3 separate regions of the Homo sapiens genome follow, and regions 2 and 3 are each linked to region 1. Evidence: fine-mapped expression QTL. A gene starts in region 1. Each other region holds a variant in brackets. All regions are shown on one strand. Distances are between the middles of the regions. Region 1 holds the start of ID2 (inhibitor of DNA binding 2). Region 2 overlaps LINC00299 (long intergenic non-protein coding RNA 299). Region 3 has its middle 86 kb from the start of LINC00299.

What was found. PIP is the estimated chance that this variant, and not a neighbour inherited with it, causes the effect.
Region 2: its variant is fine-mapped to the expression of ID2 in whole blood (TOPMed, PIP above 0.99).
Region 3: its variant is fine-mapped to the expression of ID2 in whole blood (TOPMed, PIP 0.97).

What each region holds. Positions count from the first base shown.
Region 1 is chr2:8,680,396-8,683,197 of GRCh38, reverse strand. It overlaps ID2 (inhibitor of DNA binding 2), which reads right to left and starts at 1,142. Exons shown (of 3, transcript NM_002166.5): 1 at 685-1,142; 2 at 292-355. The coding sequence starts at 1,032. The coding sequence ends at 299. It overlaps ID2-AS1 (ID2 antisense RNA 1), which reads left to right and starts at 1,335. Exons shown (of 4, transcript NR_110154.1): 1 at 1,335-1,371. RefSeq lists enhancers at 903-952, 1,440-1,943.
Region 2 is chr2:8,302,527-8,305,188 of GRCh38, reverse strand. All of the region lies in intron 2 of LINC00299 (long intergenic non-protein coding RNA 299), which reads left to right. Among named protein-coding and RNA genes, the nearest start is that of LINC00299, 25 kb to the left of the region's middle. RefSeq lists an enhancer at 1,092-1,311. The variant G/C (reference allele first, on the strand shown) is at 1,460.
Region 3 is chr2:8,412,537-8,415,338 of GRCh38, reverse strand. No RefSeq gene overlaps it. Among named protein-coding and RNA genes, the nearest start is that of LINC00299, 86 kb to the right of the region's middle. The variant G/A (reference allele first, on the strand shown) is at 1,618.

The DNA of each region.
Region 1 (2,802 bases):
AGATCCAGGGCATTACATTTGCTACAAAGCCAATACACACGTTCCTCGGCCGCCTTCGTAGTAAGTTATTGGCATCATTTCCTTTTAAAGGAAAATGTTCTGTGATCTCGAGCACCCAAAGCTACAAGCTCCTTCATGTCTAGTGAGACAATGTAGTACGGGTAACACCGCGAAGTAAGCATGCATTTACCAAATCAGACATTTTATAGATACACAAGCAAAAACACATGCGCGCGCGCGCACACACACCGAGGGGCAGTTTACCCACGGGTGGCACAAGCAAACACTCACCGCTTATTCAGCCACACAGTGCTTTGCTGTCATTTGACATTAACTCAGAAGGGAATTCAGAAGCCTGGAAAGAAAGAGGATAAAGAGTACGAGGTTAAGACAATGTTAAGTAGAAAGGGTTTTTTTTTTTTTTTTTTTTTTTTTGTAGTCCACAGACCAGCAAGTTCCATTAAACACGTTTATGGTAACAATTCAGATTTAAAGACAGACGCATTAACATGTCAGAACTTACTAGCAATTTCACGCACAGCTCAATCTACAGCAGATTCTGAAGAAAATAAAGTTAAATAGCTCATACGAAAGTCACCGTCTGGGCTACGGATCTCCTAGTGACAGCCCAGACGACCGCGGGAGTGTGCGGCGGCGGGGCGGGGACCCCGGAGCAGGTCTTACCTGCAAGGACAGGATGCTGATATCCGTGTTGAGGGTGGTCAGCGGCGTCCTGGACGCCTGGTTCTGCCCGGGTCTCTGGTGATGCAGGCTGACAATAGTGGGATGCGAGTCCAGGGCGATCTGCAGGTCCAAGATGTAGTCGATGACGTGCTGCAGGATTTCCATCTTGCTCACCTTCTTGTTCTGGGGGATGCTGGGCACCAGCTCCTTGAGCTTGGAGTAGCAGTCGTTCATGTTGTATAGCAGGCTCATCGGGTCGTCCACAGGGGTTTTGCTCCGGGAGATGCCCAGGCTGTGGTCCGACAGGCTGTTTTTCCTAACGGACCTCACGGGACTGAAGGCTTTCATGCTGACCGCGAGGGAAGGCGAGACCGGGAGGGAGCTGGCTGCCCTGAAGCTCAGGCCGCCGCTGCCGCCTGCTGAGCTAGCTGCGCTTGGCACCGGGCTCGGCTCAGAATGAAGCCCGAGCCCGGCGGGGCGGCTTTTATCCGCACTCGCCGGGGCCACACGCTGGAGCTTCCCTTCGTCCCCATTGGCGGAAGGTGGCACGTCTATCAAGACGAGCGGGCGCTTCCATTGGTGGGCGCGGGCGCGGGGCGTGGGCTTGGTTCTTCCGCGTTCGCAGCCAATCCCCGCGGGGTGGGCGGGGCGCGAGCCCAGCTGGGGTGGTAAATAGAGTACAGTACAGTAAGTGCGGGGCTGGCGGGGGGCGGGGGGCGGGGAGCGGCGGGCGGGGGGCGGGGAGGAGGGAGGCGGGAGGAGGGAGAGGAGGAGGGAGGAGGAAGAGAAGGGAAGATGGGGGAGGGGAAGGGGGAGGGGAAGGGGGAGGGGAAGGAGGAGGGAGAAGGGGGCAGACCCTGGGCGCCTAAATATGCATTCTTAATTCTAATTCCAAGCGCGCGGCGGGACCCTTGCCCTGGGGGTGTTCCCAGACCAAGCCCTACACACCTTAGAGCTGTCGGCAGCTCTAAAATCACAGCTACACGGGCGAGTTCAGCACCGCAGGGGGGAAGCCACAGTTCACTGCAACCCATCGGAGGGAGAGCGTGAGGAAAGATAGAAAGCATTTCAGAAGAAAGTGAAAACGCAAATTAGGTTGTCACTGAAGAGTCACGTTTGTAGAGTGAGTTCGTCTCTTCAGATAAGGAAAAGTTATGTTAACACAAACAAACCACCCACGCACGCATTCGACGACAGGCTTAGTGTGGGCTTTTGCAACCCGGAGCAGCGCGGGAGGCATTACTGTAAACTCAAGAAAATGAGTACTTATTGCAAACCATGCCCAACCTCACCGGTCGCTAAGGAGCTCTCACAGGCAGGGCGCTTTCAGGGTTCCTTTTCAAGAAGGAGGCAGGGCTATTATAATGATCGTATTAATCGGAAATAATTAGGAGAATTTGCATATTGAAACTACATTTACATACACTGCCCTTGAAAGGCTGCCGGTCTGTGCCCTTCCGTGTAGGTGGCAAAGTAATGTGATTAATTATGCACTAATTGTGATTTCTGGTGTCACATTCCAACACCTAGAGGAGTTCCAAAGCTTTGTGACAGATAGGTGGCCCTAGCCATTGATAGACATCTTCACACTAAGGAAAAAAAAATATTCTGTCATATGAGGTTTGGAATCTTTTCAGCACTAGTACTGAATACGGGTTCAAGGTTTTTTTTTTTTTTTTTGGCTGAAAATCTTTTAAGAACTCGTTCTTTCAGTCTAAGTTTTAAAAAGTTTGCAGCTATTTACTTAAATACCTTAATTTTCACATAATTGTAGCTTATCTAGAATTCTGTTTTGACCACAGTGTGTCAGTTTCTTGTTTTTGAAAATATTTGCTCCAGAAAACAATGAACTAGAAAACTCCAGGAAAGGCAATATTCAAATCTTATTTACTTTCTGCCTCAATCTCTACCTCCTTTGCATTTCAGAAAGCGGAAGGGGCAGGCCTAGAAGCTGAAAGAAAAGCTCGATAATGGGGAAACAGTGTTTTTTCCTTCAATTAATGATTAATTTCTCAGCTGGTGGGGCCAGCAGTCTCTGACCGTCACGTGACAGCTATGCGCCCCATGACGCCTCTCCAGGGAGGCAGAGTGGGTGGCACTGAGGTGGAGCTCACCTTC
Region 2 (2,662 bases), 380 kb after region 1:
CTTGTATTTTACCAGAAAACTAAGCCAAGGTCCCTAGAGAAATGGCTTTGCTTAGGCTTCACACTGTGGCTCAATGGCAGGTCAGAGACGAGGGCCCCACACCTCGGTGTCTAGCCAGGGATCTGGCCCTAGCACCGTGTTGCTGAGTCATGTCGGGCTGCCTAGGGGATGTCGCAGAAGGAGCTCCTGGAGGACACATGCGTTCATCATCTGCTCAAAACTGCACAGCAGGTGAATGGTGACATTGACACATCAGAAAAATAACAGACTGCTTGGAGGGCGACGTGCTAAGCACTTAACGGGAATTATCTTAGTAAGTCTTTACGCCACTGTGATGAAGTAGGTAGCGTTCTCATAATTGCCATTTTACAGATGAGGACACTGAGGTTCTGGGAGGTTAAGAAACTTGCCCAAATGATGTAGTAGGTGGCCAAGCTGGAATTCCAAAGCAAGGATTTGTAAAGATTATGCTAATCAAAACTCCCACTGCCCTTGTCTGTTTTTGTTCTTCCCCTAAAGCATACCTACGTTTTCTTGTCTCAGGGAGCATGATGTGTGAAGGACTTTGGTTCTCATTGGCCAGAGACACCGAGTCCATCTCAGTCTGAAGTCCTGGGATCTGAGATTCCCTGAGTGTGTGGATTCCCTGCTAGGCAGGATGCAGTTTGACTGACGAGTTCCTTTTCTTTTATTTTCTTCTATTTAGCGACTTGCTTTTCCTGATATCCTCTTTTAGGAGGCTGTTAGGCCCCTGGGCCAGAGGCCTTTTATAGCACCCAAAAAATTGCCTTGTAGCAATCTGACAATTTTTTATAATAATTTGGGTCTTATTTCTAAATACAGTAACAATTTGGGGTCTTTTGTGTTATTTTTGTGTTTTGGCTCACCATCATTCAGTTTGGATTTTGTTGTGTGAAGTTCCCCAACTCCTGGCCTATTTCCATCCACCCTTTTATTCATGGGATAAATAGTAACTGTGTACCTACCCCCAGAACCTCCTATGACAAGGCACCCTAGGGCTCAGAGTAAGTTGTCTTCCCCCCCCCCTTTTTTTGACTATTGATAACACAAATAAAGCTGCAATAACTATCTTGGTTGAGACACAGCTTTCTAAATGCTTGTCGATAGCTTGCTGGTGTACGACCTTAGTTTTTACCGCGTCCCTGCCTTGACCACCCATCCTGCCCTCAAGAGGACACAGGGCTCCTCTCTGGGAAGATCCAGGGTTGGCAGAAAGGAAAGATTTCCTTCTTGACTTGTGATATGGCCTCTGTGCCAGGCCCTGTGCTAGGCCCTGGGAATGGAGTGGGGAGCGAGGCTCAGCCCTGTCCTCTGGACAGCCTGGACTGGCTCTCTGCATCTTACATTTGATTTTTAACAACAGTAGGAGAGGATGAACGCTGGAGAGGAACAGAAACCAGAGATCTGGGCTTGCAGCCCTCCCTGTTAACCTCGACAC[G/C]GCCCCCTGTGTCCTCTTGGTTTCCTGTCCCTCACCACAAGAAGCAGTGTTCAAATCGGTTTCTAGATGGCTCCGATGTGGCCACGTTTGGGTGGGTCTGGTGCATGTTGGCTCAGCTGGGAACATGCCAGTGTTTGGGGGTTGTTGTTGTGCAAGCCTGAGGGCCGGCTCACTGCACGAGGTCAGGGTGTCCTGGTGGGCCTTGTTCTGCTTTGTGATGACAGCAGCCCTCCAAGACGGTCAAGCTTGACCATATAAATTACCGTATAAATAACCATGATGGGTATGAATGACTCACTTAATGATTTCATTTCTGTATTTCACACCTTTTGGTGCTACCATGCTATGCATTGAGGGTCCAGGATGTGTAAGGCACTAGCACAGCACCTGAGATATTTTTGAGTGGTGGGGCAGAGAATGTGGTACAAAAAGATGAATGAGGCTGGATGCAGTGGCTCACGCCTGTAATCACAGTGCTTTGGGAGGCTGAGTGGGGAGTATTGCTTGAGGCCAGGAGTTTGAGACAGCACTGAGGGTCCAGGATGTGTAAGGCACTAGTACAGCACCTGAGATATTTCTGAGTGGTGGGACAGAGAATATGGTACAAAAAGATGAATGAGACTGGATGCAGTGGCTCACGCCTGTAATCACAGTGCTTTGGGAGGCTGAGGGGGGAGGATCGCTTGAGGCCAGGAGTTTGAGACCAGCCTGGTCAACACAGCAAGATTCTGTTTCTTACATTAAAAACAGCAACAACAACAACAACAACAACAACAACAAACAACCACCCATGAACAAGATCTAAGGAGTGCAGGGAAGGCAGTGGGTGCCTCTCAGCACACAGTGAGGCTGGTGCGCTGAGAGGTTTCCCCTCATTGGGATTTCTTTGTTCTCTTTGCTATTCCTCCCATTCAAGCAACCCTTTCTCTGCTCTTCCCTAGGTAAGGGGTGTGAGAGCAGAAAGACAAGCAGTCCTCTTTCGGCTGCAGTGACCATTGGGGTGCTCTGCCCAGGTCTCCCCGCTAGCTGCAGTGACAGTTGATGATGGCCATGGCAGAGCCCGCACTGGATGCCCCCTCCTGCTGCAGGGAATGGCCTCTTTTCAGGTCATATCCCCCAGGTTCTGAAACTGACCGAGGAAGGAACGCAAAGGCTCGGCCCTCTTGCCTCAACTTGGGACAACTCTGATGGGCCGTCCCAGCT
Region 3 (2,802 bases), 270 kb after region 1:
CACCCAGAACACACAGAATACACAGTTTTTAACACAATGTTAAAAATTGGTGGGCTTGTCTGGCACTGAGTGCTCAGCAACCTGCTCTTTGTGCATCGTCTCCATCTGAGATGAGCCAAGTCACAGCTTGTCTCCAGAGGATGAAGGACTTGCTCAAGACCAGTAGGTGTGCTGAGCCCAGAGGGCCAACTGTTCCCACCCAGTGCCGTGTGCCTGTGTGGCTGCCTCGCAGCTAGGCTGCGTCAACTTGCAACTTGGCCTCTGTGCTGGGAGGCAGCCACTCCTTCTTCCCTCTCTGAGGATTTTGACAATGTCTTCCTCATGACCCCTCATTATGTTCCAGCACCAGGAGCATCACTGCGAGGTGGCTGCACAGAAGTGGAGATCTGAGGTGGGCGGGAAGCCCCCTTTCTCCTTTAGGTTTGCATTTGAGGATGAGTCAAGAGGACTTAGGTCTATTTTTATTTTTTTGAGGCAGGGTCTCCCCCTGTCACCCAGGCTGGAGTGCAGTGATGTGATCATGGCTTAATGTAGCCTGGACCTCCTGGGCTCAATTGATCCTCCCACCTCAGCCTCCTGAGTAGCTGGGTAGCCAGGCAGGTGCATGCCACCATGCCTGGCTACTTTCGAATTTTTTGTAGAGATGGGCTTTCACCATGTCACCCAGGCTGGTCTTGAACTCCTGAGCTCAAGAGATCCACACACTCAGCTTTCCAAAGTGTTGGAATTACAGACATGAACCACCACGCCTGGCCATATTTATTAATTTTTAAAATGAAGGATCCAGGAGTAAAATTTTGGCCACTGAACAGAAGAACCTGCTGCAAGACAACACTCTTGATTTTTGTTGTTTGTCTGTTTGTTCGCACTATCTGCTGGGCTTTTTTTTTTTTTTTTTTAACTGTAGTTATCCTGACTTCAGATTTTTCCAGGTGATTTTTTTGGGGTGCAGACTTGAAGAAGGCTTGCCTCAAATCACCTGTCCCTGAAGTAGCCGGCAAGGGCAGTGCTGTGGGCTCAGCCAGTTCTGAAGTCTGAGGAACCTGGGCATTTCCAGTGCCCAGGTAATATATCTGTTTCTCACTTTTTCAAAATCACCTGATTGGAATATATATATATATATATTCATCATATATATAATGCAGAAACACTTAGACATGTGAAGCAAAGCTTCACTTTTATGGGCTTATTTTTAAAGGGTACATGCTGTTGTGTGCCAGATCATAGTTACCTTTGAATGATCGGGTTGTATCTACAAATAGCTTGCACACCTCTTGCTAAATGTTTTCCTGTTGGCAGAAGCCCGCCAGTGTGTTGAAAGACTTTCACAAGAGCTCTGGCCCATCTCTCTCACGGTCCTTCTGTATTTTATTGGCTGCTTTTGCTGATAAGAAATGCCTATGTGATTTGGACTGTAACTGCATCAGGAAAAAGTCAAAGTACTAAGTCCAGAGAGAGCCTCTTTATTTATTTTTTTAAAAGTATGTGTTTGCCTCTACAACCCAGATATTCTTTCTCCTCACCTCAGCAATTTGTTCACAGAGTACGTTACTCAGGGTGAGGTGGCCAGACTCACTTATTTGCCTGGGTAGCGCTGGTTTGCAACGAATTGTCCAG[G/A]TGTTGTAAGTAGTAACTTCTCCTTCTGCTCTCAAAAATGACCTTGTGTGGACAATACAGGATATGACCATCCTACTTAGAGTCCCCTTCCCCCACCCCTGACAGTTTCTGCACATTGCATTGACACCACATTTTTTGAAGAGGCACATTTACCTCTGGCTGGTCCTGTGTGTGAAAACAATTCTGTTCATTTCAAAGCTGTCCATGGTATAGTGGCCATGGTTTTTATCCTTGGCTTCTTTAGAAAAAACCCAAATGTACCTGGTTCCTCTTGACCAGTTTTCAACTGCAAACTGAGAGGGGGGAGGCATGCTTCCCTGAATTCTCATTCCCTTTGGTGCTGAGGCAAGGGGAGTACAAATGGTCTTTAAAGAAACAGTTTAGGCTGGATGCGGGGGCTCACACCTATAATTCCAGTATTTTGGGAGGCTGAGGCGGGTGGATCGCTTGAAGCCAGGAGTTCGAGACCAACCTGGGCAACATGGTGAAACTCTGTCTCTACTAATAATACAAAAATTAGCTGAGTGTGGTGGTGTGCCTGTAGTCCCAGCTACTTGGGAGGCTGAGGCATGAGAATTGCTTGAACCCGGGAGGCAGATTGCAGTGAGCTGAGATGGCACCACTGCACTGCACCCTGGGTGACAGAGAGAGACTGTGTCTCCAAAACAAAACAAAACAAAAAGAAAAGAAAAGAAAATTGAGAAGTTTGAAAACGCCTTGATGTTCGGGTGTGCTGGGGCAGCCTTCTCCAGCCTGCCTCTCAAGGGGCTCTGTGATGTGCTCTCCCTCCACAAGGAGCATTGGTGTGGTGCCATGCAGTTATTTGGGAGCCTGTTGTCCTATCCTGCCGTCTGTTGCAGTTTTACAATGTCATTTCCCCAGATTCCTTCAGGAATGTTTCCTCACAAAGGCCTGCTTTTGCAATGCCCCAGGGAGCGATTCTGTCTCATTTTCTTGCTCTTTTTCTTGCTTAGCACTTAATGAACTTTTCTTGGCTGTTTCAACTGTCAGCATTTAAAGTCTGCTGGTGAATGTTGGTTGGCTTTCTCTGTGCTAAACTGGACCATTCAGTGGCGATTATAGTTCTTCAACATCATGAGAAATTTGAGGGAAAGGCGAACCTTCCAAAAGTCTCTCAATGCAGCAGGAAGTGCGTCTGGCAGAAAAAGGAAGGGGAAAAAAAGC